Regions from separate parts of the Homo sapiens genome. Here all the other regions are reported to be linked to region 3. Evidence: microRNA targets listed by miRTarBase, many of them from high-throughput screens and not tested one by one. Region 3 holds a microRNA gene; each other region holds the end of a gene's coding sequence. Distances are between the middles of the regions.

Region 1 (3,244 bases), 560 kb from region 3:
AGGGGCAGGAGGCAGGGGTGGCTTCTGGAACCTGAGGCTTGGCCCCGGTTGGGTCTGTTCTTGGGGGCTGCACTGCTGGATCCCAGGAGCAGGTGTGGAACAGCCCCATGGCCAGGGTGATGGAAATCCTCGGCTGCATGCAGACATAGACCCACCCTGGACTGGGCTGTCTCCGGAGCCCAGACACATCGCCCTGGGAAGGGGCAGCTGGGCCTGCAGTGTGCTGGGCAGGGGCTGGCGGCCCTGGTCGTGGGCTCTCCAGGGTCCCTCAGGGGATTGGGCCTCTCCCCAGGCAGGAAGGTGGGAAGTGCAGGCATGACCCGGGGTTCCTGAGGCTGGTCCACCAAGTTGCTTCTGAGACGCCTTCGCTTCTGTCCTGGCTGGCTGTTAATGATATCCCTGTTCTAATTCCACTCTGGCTAAACTGAAAGTAAAGATCCTTAAGCTTACATGTGTCTATTCCTCAAAATCAAAATAAAAACAAAAGCACCCGAGTCTCCAACAGGGATGAGGAGGAGCGTGTGGGGCTTCTGTCTGCCCTCTCCGCTGTTGGCTGGCCTGGCTCGTGGTTCTAACTGTCTGTAATTTGTGGGTCACACACAGTTTGCTCAGGCTTTGAGCCTTTCGTGTCCGAAGCTTTTAGGAATTAGAAGTTGGCCTTCCCGAGGTTCTGCCTTCCTCTCTGTACATTTTCTAGTGGCTTCGAGTCTCACTGCTTCCCATGCAGCTTCCCCAGGTGGGAGGATCCATTTCGAAGGATCTCTTGGGGGTGTGGTGCCCATCTTTGAGCAATGTTTATTCGAAAACACCTGAGGTCGTAGCGTGGGACCCCGCAAAGCCAGGCACGTCCTTGCGTTGCCTTTGCAGTGGACAGACAGCAGCGGCTGGGGGAGATCGGCCTGTGCGGTGTCCCCCGTCAGAACCGGGGCTGGAGGGGTGTCCCAAGCACACAGGGCTGAGCCTGGGCCTGTGACTGCTCTGAGAGACCCAACCTCTGGGAGCCGCTGCTTCTGCATCCAGAATATGGGGCAGGAACCTGCCCATCCTCCTTCCTGGGGTGGGGTGGGATGGGCTGGGCCTGGGGAGAGATGCTGGAGGGTCCCCGGGGGAGCCCCCACCATGGTCCCTTCTGGGCCACTTCTGGAAACAGCCCCTTTTGTTACCTCCACCCGCAACTCTGGGCTCCCTGGATTCCAAAGCTGGAAGTGACCCTGGAGACCACTTCACCTGTTCCCTGGCACCTGGAGTTGCAGGGACACACCCTGACTGCAGGGCAAAGGGAGCCGGCCGGGCATCCCTCAAGACCCAGGGGCTTGGTCAGCCCCTGCCCGAGTGGACACATCCACTCCCAGGCCTGCAGGAGATGGGGAGGTTCCAGGCGCCCAGGACATCCGCTTTGGCCACTGAGGCCGATTCCTTAGCAAATCGGTTCTGGTTTCTCTCATTTCTATAAAAACACCAAGACTGAAGGAAGCCACGGTGTGTTTTAATAAAACAGTGTCTCCCAGTTAAGTGGTGGGACAAACAGGAACCACCGGGTGGATGGTCGGCCGTGCCCACCCGCCTCAGGCTAACCTCGAGGACGCTGGTCTGATTGTCCCTGTGTCTCTCCTGGGCAGTTCTGCCTGGTGTCTAACCGTGGGCCTCCCTGCTTTGTTCAGCCCTCCCCCCACGTAGGGTCTGGAGAGGCCCCTGGTGTTTGTCATCCACAGGGCTCCCTTCAGCTCTGCAATCCGGCGACAAAGCCACAACCACAGACGGTCTCCGGGACCCACAGGCCCCAGCTGGTGGGTGGTGCTGGCTGGCCCCGGGCTCAGCTGGGTGTGCCTGGCCTGCAGAGCTGGGCACAGATGGCTGTTCTGAAGGTCGGGGGTGTCTGGGCCCCTTGCTGTCCCCTCGGCTTCTACACCTGAAGCCGCCCCTGATGAGGGGTCCTTCCCTGGGGCCTCTCCAGACTCACGGGGCTGGGTAGGGGGGTCAGACCTGGGCTCAGAGGATGGCACCTCACATCAAAGGGACCCACCTTGACAACCAGACCCTTCCCTCCCCGTGGGGTTTCGAGGTCTGGATTCCCCACAAGCCATAATCGCAAAAGGCTGGGTTTGCCTCCTCCGAGCAGCCCCTTGAACACGGGCAGTGTGTCCCCCTCCTCAAGAGGGTGCACACGGTGATGGCCGGGCCAGGCCCTAGCAGCAGCAGGAGTTCCTGCTGGGACGAGGGAGGGGTCTTTGGGTGAGCCTGGGGAGCCTCAACTGTTAGCAGTCGAATCCTCTTTCTAATAAAATCTCACATGGACCCAACACAGGAGACAGGAGGGCTGTGCTGACTAGTGTGGCGGGGCCGCCTGCTGTGCCCCCCATGTCCGATCTCACGCCACGGGGTCCCCCTTTTCCTAGTTAGCCCTCAGGCAGCAGCCCCTTTTGGCCCCCATGATTCACCAAGCAGCAGGGCCAGGGCTCAGGCTGTCTCGGAGCCCCCGGAGTGCTTGAGCTCTCCTGGAAGCCCTGCCCGTCCTGCCCGTCCTGCCCGTCAGAGCCGCAGGAGGCCGCGCCAGCAGGTGAGGGCCACGTGCCGCAGGTGCAGGACAAGGCCGAGGAGCCGGGCCCGCAGGTCCTCCAGTGCCGTTGCCACGGGCTTGGCCCGGCCGCAGTATAGGCCCAGGGCCAGCACGAGCAGGACGCACACACACAGCTGCAGGAGCAGGGAGCCGCCGTGTGGCCTGGGCCGGCCGGGCACTGCGGCCAGAGGGCAGGCAGGGTCAGCGCCAGCCAGCGCGACCCTTCCCTGGAGGACTGGGGCTGGTGGGGAAGGGATGGGGAGATTCCACCCTGTCCATGCCCATGGCCCCTCCCTAGCCTCTTGGGGTCTCCTTGCAACAAGAGCTCCCCAACTGGGGACTCCTTAGAGGCCCTGGCCCTGTGACACCTCCCTCGGGGAGGGAGTGAGGGTGGGTGCACCCACGGAGGGGGCAGTGGGGCACAGGGATGTGGGCTCAGAACTCACCCCTGACAGTGGCTGTGGCGTTCTTGTCAGCAATGTCTGCGAAAGAGAATGGAGAGTCAGCTGGGGGCACCTGCCTCAGTCCATCGGGCGCCCCCGCCCTCTCGTCTCACCCTGCACCCCCGAAGGACCCTGAGACTATTCATCAGTGAGAGACCCAGGCCCAGCCGGTCCTGACACTTCCTCAAAGGGACAGTCATGATTTGAGAATCCGCCCTCATGTTCTCCTCCAGTTGCTGTTTCA
Region 2 (3,244 bases), not on the chromosome of region 3:
CCAATCCTGCTGCGGCTTCTGCAGGGAATGTCAATCACGGGACCCTAGTTCCTTGCCAGTGTGGCCCACAGGAATAAGCATGTGACTCGAGCTGGGCCAATCAGAGCCTTCCATGAGATTTGAGATGGAAAAGCATCTCTTAGAGTGTGAATCCTGAAATTATAGGCTTGGGGCTGCTGGCAGCCATCTTTCCCGCCAGGTGGAAGAAAGAATGAGGTCAGCATGCAAAGAGATGCAGAGTCAAGAGGCCTGGGTGCAGTTGAGAGGCCTGAGGACATTAAGCTCCTGGATCCAGCCATATCTGAAGCAGCACCCACCTTCAGCCATCCCTAGTACAGGACCCAGGGAATTTGCTTTGTTGCTTAAGCCAGTTTGGGCTGGTTTTCCCTAGGGAGAGAGCACTCTCAAGAGCAGAACTGAAAGGGCCTGAGGTTCCTCACCCCCACTGTTAAGGGTGGACAGCTGATAGCAGACTCCCCTCCCCCCACCCGCCTCTGGAACAGGCAGTTCCAGCTTCCTTCCGTAAAAGGCTTCTGTGTCCTTCTCTGGGGCTAGACAATAAATGTATAAAGACTGCCAGGGCAGCTTATCCCAGCATACTTGTAGGATAACACCTAGTTTTTAAGAGAAAAGCTAGAAATTCACTTAAAGATAGTTGAAAATATTGCAAGTTGCTCTCAGCAATAAATGCCTGGTGATATGGGAGCAATTAGTTTTGAGAACGTCTCCTTCCAATCAGTCGGTCTCTTATGCACACATGTGCACACACACCTTGACGCAGAGTGCAAAGCAATCTATTTTGTTCAGATACCTGAGAAGCGGACAGAGAGCCAACAGGAAGGTGGGCAAGGCTCTCTCCCAGCAGGAAGAAGGATGTATCTGAAAAGATGACACTTTCTCTCTTCCTTGGGTTTGGGGTTGAGGCTGGCGTAGATATAAGTTTCCTGGCCCTGCATTGCTGAGCCTGCATAAAGATGATTCTTGTGGCCACAAAACCACCCCTTGGCTCAGTTACTGCAGCAGAGATGAGCCCCAACTCTAAGCAAGGCCAGGAGACAAGGGTACCAGCCACTGCTGACAGAGCCATGTCAGTGAGACTCCTGCCACGCAGGTCATGAGGATGTGTAATGTGGGCTGGGCGCAAGTCAATGGGGTAGGGACTGGCGTGGCCACATCCAGGGGTGCAGAGGTGTTGTCTTCATGCAACAATAGTGACCCCATTCTGCTGGTGCTCCCAAATGCCTAAGGGAAGCCAGAAATCCTGATTTCGATGCGAAATGCCTCAATTTTTAAACCATTCTAAAGGCAAAAAAGCAACACTAAAAGCAGGCCAGATCAGGCTTCAAGTTGGTGACCCCTGACTGGCTGCCTTTTGGGGAGTCCAGGAAAGGAAAGGAGAAATGTCCTCAGGCCCCAAGGAGACCCAAGACGCTCCTGTGTAGTAACTAGGGGAACTCATGTCAATATTGAACCTAGTTCCAGAGTCATATCTGCCCCAGGGCAAACACAGCAGCCTCCACTCGCGGGGGGAATCGAGACTCCATGTTGAGACCCTGGATCTAGCCTTACCTGAAGCAAGCCCTCCTGGACTGGCCAGTTCTATGCACCCATGAATGATCATGCTTTTGTGTTGAAGCACCTGGGCATGGGTCTCTGTGGCTTACAACCAAAAACAGTCATAATTAAACAGTTCCCTAGGAGAGAAAGGCATCTCCAGTGGGGTATACAGACAGCCTCAGTCACCCCATCACTGCCTGGAACTTAGCAGAAACCCAGGGCTCTCCCACCCTCTCCAATCAGGGATGGTCAGGCTTAGGCCATGCTGGCCAAGTGCAGGGAACATGGATTTTCACTTCAGGATGTGCTGTTCCCCACAAAGAGCAGCGCCTGTAACTCACTTAACTGCTCACCAAGCACATCTTGATACTGCATAACAGAACGTTATGCAATCAGATGCCAAGGTAAACACCCTTCATTTCTGCCTCCCCAGCATCCTTCCTCCTTCTTCTTAGGGGGGACCCCAGTACTCCTCGAGGCACCCACTAGTGCTTTTGAGAGCAGGTGGTTGGTTCCAGAGATGTGCATGTGATCCAGGCTGGCCAATCACTGCACCTCACTGCAACCCTGGATCACGGTGATTGGTCCAGATTGGGCATGACCCTGCTGGCCAATCAGCATTCTCCAGTGTGCCTGGCAACTGTGATTGGTTCAGGAATTGACCTGGCAATCGCTCCCCCTTCCAGGCTAAGACTCAGCTCTGGGAAGTGGGCTGGAGCCTTTGGGAGGAAGAGGCTCTCTTATGCAGGCAAGCTGCAGGGAGGAGAAGGGCACCTGATAGTGATGGTCCCCTGCATGGCGAAAGCAGAGCAAGAGGTGGACAGAGAGGAGATGGGCCTGGCTGACGTCGCTAAGCCCGGATGTCCCAAAGGTGTGGTATGGTAGACACCTTGGCCTTGGCTTGGTCTTCCTTACACGAAGCCGGAAGGAGATGGTTCTGTCCTTGCAATTTCAAGAGCCCTGACACCACCCACAGGCCAGTTCTGGATCCTTGCCATCCGCTCCAGACACCCCAACTTGGGCAGCATCTAGGCCTGGGGCTCCAGCCCACATGGTCCCAGGCCCTGCAGTTAGCTGGCTTCTCATTCTGGACATTTCTGGACACTGGAGGCGAGCGGGCGGCCCTGAAACACTGGGCCCGGCTATCTGGAGACCAGGGAGCTGCTATGAGACTGGCCGGAGGAGGAGGACGAGGTGGCGGCGCTGAGCTGGGAGAAGCCGCTGGTGCAGGATTCCAGGCTGGACATGGAGCCCCTGGGGAGGAAGGGCGTGGCACACGTTACCCTCTCACAGTGACAAGGCCCTTGGGCTGACACACAGCAGTGGAAAAGCTGTTGATGCTGCAAATCAGGCCCCAGGGCCCCAGGCCGATGCAAAGGGAAAAGCAAGTGACGCCATGAAGAGAAAAGCACTACCGAATTCCCCACACTCCCATCTCCCCAGATGGAGCCCAGCCTGCCACAGACCCATCAGGGGCTCCCCTGGCCTGAGGCCCTTGCATGGCCCTAAGGCCGCCACAGCCCAGGGAGTCCCCGGCCCTGTCTCCAGTCTCACTCCCTCCTTACTCTTTGCACTCAAATTCCATGGTCCTCCTCCTAGCTCTTGCAGTGGCCTTCGTGTGCGCTGAGCCTGAGGCAGAAGCCCATTCTCTCCTCCCCCAGCTGTCTGGTTAACTCCTACTCCAAAC
Region 3 (3,244 bases):
CCGGCGCTCAGGGAGGGCTTCCCGGGGGAGGAAGCACTGGAGCTGGGCCAGGTGAGGACAGAGAGGGGCGGGGGAGGAGCGTCGGGCCGGGGGAGCTGGCCTCGGGCATGGGGGCAGCCTGGGACTCCACCCCATGGTGGCAGCACCCCCTGGCCAGGCCTTTCTGGGTACGGGGCCTGCCGCACCCAGACAGCGGTCCATCTCAGGGTGATAAGGGGCCCACAGGGGTGGAGGCACAGGCCGTGTGGGCGGGTGCTGGAACACTCACTGGTGTCGCAGAGCTCGCCCTCCCAGCCGCTGGGGCAGAAGCAGCGGAAGGCGTCCACCTCATCGATGCATGTGCCCCCATTGCGGCAGGGCTGGCCCAGGCAGTCGTCAATGTCTGCAGAGGCGAGCGGGGTGAGCCAGGGCCTCAGGCCAGCCCAGCCCCACCACCAGCCCGCCGTTCGTGGCCACTCACTCTCATGGCAGTAGGTGCCAGTAAAGCCACTGTCACAGATGCAGGAAAAGTTGCCCCCTGGCTGGCTGACGCAGCGTCCATGGGGGCCACACACGCCGGAGGCTGCTGTGCCAGGCATCCCAGGCCCCGCGTCTGACCCGCAGCCATCGATCACTATGGCAGGCAGTACAGTCAGGAGTCAGGCCCGCCCCTGCCCCACCACCTCCCCCACCACCCCATGCCGCACCCAGCACCTCTGCAGGCCCCGCCAGGGCACGGCTCGCGGGGCACGGAGCAGTTCTTGCCACCAAAGTCATCAGGGCAGGCGCAGTAATAGTCACCCTCCAGGTTATAGCAGCGAGCGCCGTTCCGGCAGGGGCTTGGCTCACAAAGGTCGACATCCACCTGCAGGGTGGGGGGTGCCTGTGAGAGCCTAGGCCCAGGCCCAGGCCGGGAACACAGGCCAGGCCTCTGTCCATACGAAGGTAGATCCCTGGGGACCCCCAGGCCCCTCCGCCCTGGGCCTAACAGTGCCAGCCAGAGCCCAAGACCCCTGCCCACCTGAGACTGCCCAGGCCTTAGCTGAACGCAGATACCTGTGGGCCCCCACCCCCACCTCCACTGCAGCCCAGCTTCCTCACTGTCCCTCGGGAGGAGTGTGGCCTTGGCCCCTGCTGCTGGCAGGAAGGACAGCTCCTGAGCCCCTCACACACTGCCTGGCCACCCTCAGAGCCAAGACTGTGGGTCTTTTCCAGGGCCAGCCACTGCCATGCTTGCAGGTCCTGAGGTCAGACCCCTGCCCTGGGCCCCAAGAAGCCCTCTGGACAGGAGGCCCATCCTCTGCACCAAGGCCAGGGCAGGATCGTGGGCGGCCGAGGGTGGTAGGGAGGTGGGTGGGGGGAGGCAGGGAAAAAGGGGAAGTAAGGGGAGGGGGTGGTAGGGAGGCAGGTAATGGGGAGGCAGGGTTGGGGGAGGTGGGGAAGGGGGTGGTAGGGAGGTGGGTGGGGGGAGGCAGGGTTGGGGGAGGTGGGGAAGGGGGTGGTAGGGAGGTGGGTGGGGGGAGGCAGGGTTGGGGGAGGTAGGGGAGGGGTGATAGTGAGGTGGGTGGGGGGAGGCAGGGTTGGGGGAGGTGGGGAAGGGGGAGGTGGGGAAGGGGGTGGTAGGGGTGGTGGGGAAGGGGGAAGGCAGGTTACTTTGGAGGCAGGGGGGAAGGGGAGGTTGGGGGAGGGGGTCCAGTACCAACAGATGGTCAGAGGGAGGCGAGAGCATCAGCCCTGAGAGAGATGCCCACTCCGACCCAGGACTCACCTATGACAGGTGTATACCTCTCCACCATCAGGCACCCACCCTACCCCATGTGCTCTGCCCACCAGAGCCCCCTGCCCTCCAGTCCCGAGGGAGTGCACAGATGGACAGATAGGCCTGGGCAGCCAGCAGCCCGGGGGCTCCTAGCCCAGGCCACCAGGAAACCCATCACAACAAGCAATGGCCACAGGGGGCCAAGCCTGGTGACCTGTGACAGCCCCGCCTGCCCACCTGGCACCCAGTGGAGAGCTGAGCCTGGGACGCCTTGGGGACAACTTCCCCTGCAGCACCCCTGGGTCACTCAGGCCCCATGGTCAGGGGACGAGGCCTGCCCTACAGCTCCCAGAGCAGCAGGTGGGGCAGGGTGACCAGGCAGACCTCACCTCACAGAGAGGCCCGGAGAAGCCCTGGGGGCAGTGGCAGTGGAAGCCGTCGGCCAGGTCCTCGCAGAGGCCGCCGCTGTGGCAGGGGCTGCTGGCACACTCGTCTCGTTCCAGCTCGCAATGCCGGCCTCCGAAGCCCCGTGGGCACACACACTGGTACCCGTTCACCAGGTCCTGGGCGGGCCAGCCAGGTGAGCGTCCCGCAGGCACCCTGACGGCCCCGCAGCACCCACGCCACACACCCTCCTGGCCCCGCCTCACCTTGCAGGTGCCCCCATGCTGACACTGCCCGCGACAGTCGTTGACGTCTGGGGGCAGAGGAGCAGGGTCAGAGGCGGGGTCCCATGTGCCTCGGCCCACCCGCCGGCGCCCACCCCCCATACTGACTGATATGGCAGTTGATGCCCTTCCAGCCCGGGATGCAATCACAGTAATAGCCGCCAATCAGGTTTTTGCAAGAAAAAGCGTTAAGGCATGGCTTCCCTTCACACTCATTGGCGTCTGTGAAAGAGACAAGGTGGGAGCCGTGGGGCTCGGGCCCTGCCTGCCCCCTGCAGCACGGGCACCTGGCACCCGCAGCCCAGCAGCCCCAGCAGCCCCAGCAGCCCCCGCAGCCCCAGCAGCCCCCGCAGCCCGCATGCGCGGCCCACGTTCCCATGCACTCGCTCGGAGCCCTTACCCAGCTGGCAGGTGGCCCCCACCCACTGCTCGGGGCAGATGCACTCAAAGCCGTCCACCTGGTCCACACAGGTGCCACCGGCCGCACACGGGTTCGAAGCACACTCATCGATGTCTGCAGAGGGTGGAGAAAGGTGGGGCCCTGGCAGTGTGAGCCGTGGGAATAAGGTCCCCATGGGCAGGTGGCGCTGCAAGCCTGGGTCTTCCTGCCATTTGTCCTCGCCAAGCCAGCCGCAGCCACACGTGTGGACTTGACCACTGCACCCCATCCCCAGCGAGTTGCCCCACTCCCAGACCCCCACTGATACTAGGCAGGAGTCCCCTACTCACGTGCAGACACTCACCAAGGGCACAGGTGGGCCCGCTCCAGCCCGATGGGCAGTGGCATTCGAAGCCGGACGGCACCTCATGGCAAGAGCCCCCGTTGGCACACGGGTTG

The links. The annotated mature microRNA hsa-miR-6765-3p reads UCACCUGGCUGGCCCGCCCAG and lies in region 3 at 2,302-2,322, opposite strand. An mRNA with a match to its seed (bases 2 to 7 or 8) in the 3' UTR can be bound and repressed. Matches are read on the target gene's strand: a 7mer-m8 pairs with bases 2 to 8, a 7mer-A1 pairs with bases 2 to 7 and ends in A, and an 8mer does both.
Region 1: miRTarBase lists C14orf180 as a target of hsa-miR-6765-3p. Seed matches in the 3' UTR shown: 7mer-m8 at 1,239-1,245 and 7mer-A1 at 1,224-1,230.
Region 2: miRTarBase lists SEC14L5 as a target of hsa-miR-6765-3p. Seed matches in the 3' UTR shown: 7mer-m8 at 1,637-1,643.

The regions. Positions count from the first base shown.
Region 1 is chr14:104,588,069-104,591,312 of GRCh38, reverse strand. C14orf180 (chromosome 14 open reading frame 180) reads right to left here. Exons shown (of 5, transcript NM_001008404.3): 4 at 3,004-3,039; 5 at 798-2,735. The coding sequence ends at 2,530. TMEM179 (transmembrane protein 179) reads left to right here. Exons shown (of 4, transcript NM_001286389.2): 4 at 1-449. Among named protein-coding and RNA genes, the nearest start is that of C14orf180, 9.9 kb to the right of the region's middle. RefSeq lists an enhancer at 2,980-3,244.
Region 2 is chr16:5,014,426-5,017,669 of GRCh38, reverse strand. SEC14L5 (SEC14 like lipid binding 5) reads right to left here. Exons shown (of 16, transcript NM_014692.2): 16 at 1-2,811. The coding sequence ends at 2,700. Among named protein-coding and RNA genes, the nearest start is that of NAGPA-AS1, 18 kb to the left of the region's middle.
Region 3 is chr14:105,148,477-105,151,720 of GRCh38, forward strand. It overlaps MIR6765 (microRNA 6765), which reads right to left and starts at 2,388; the gene lies at 2,302-2,388. JAG2 (jagged canonical Notch ligand 2) reads right to left here. Exons shown (of 26, transcript NM_002226.5): 8 at 3,150-3,244; 9 at 2,807-2,920; 10 at 2,515-2,628; 11 at 2,389-2,435; 12 at 2,128-2,301; 13 at 694-844; 14 at 461-613; 15 at 269-382.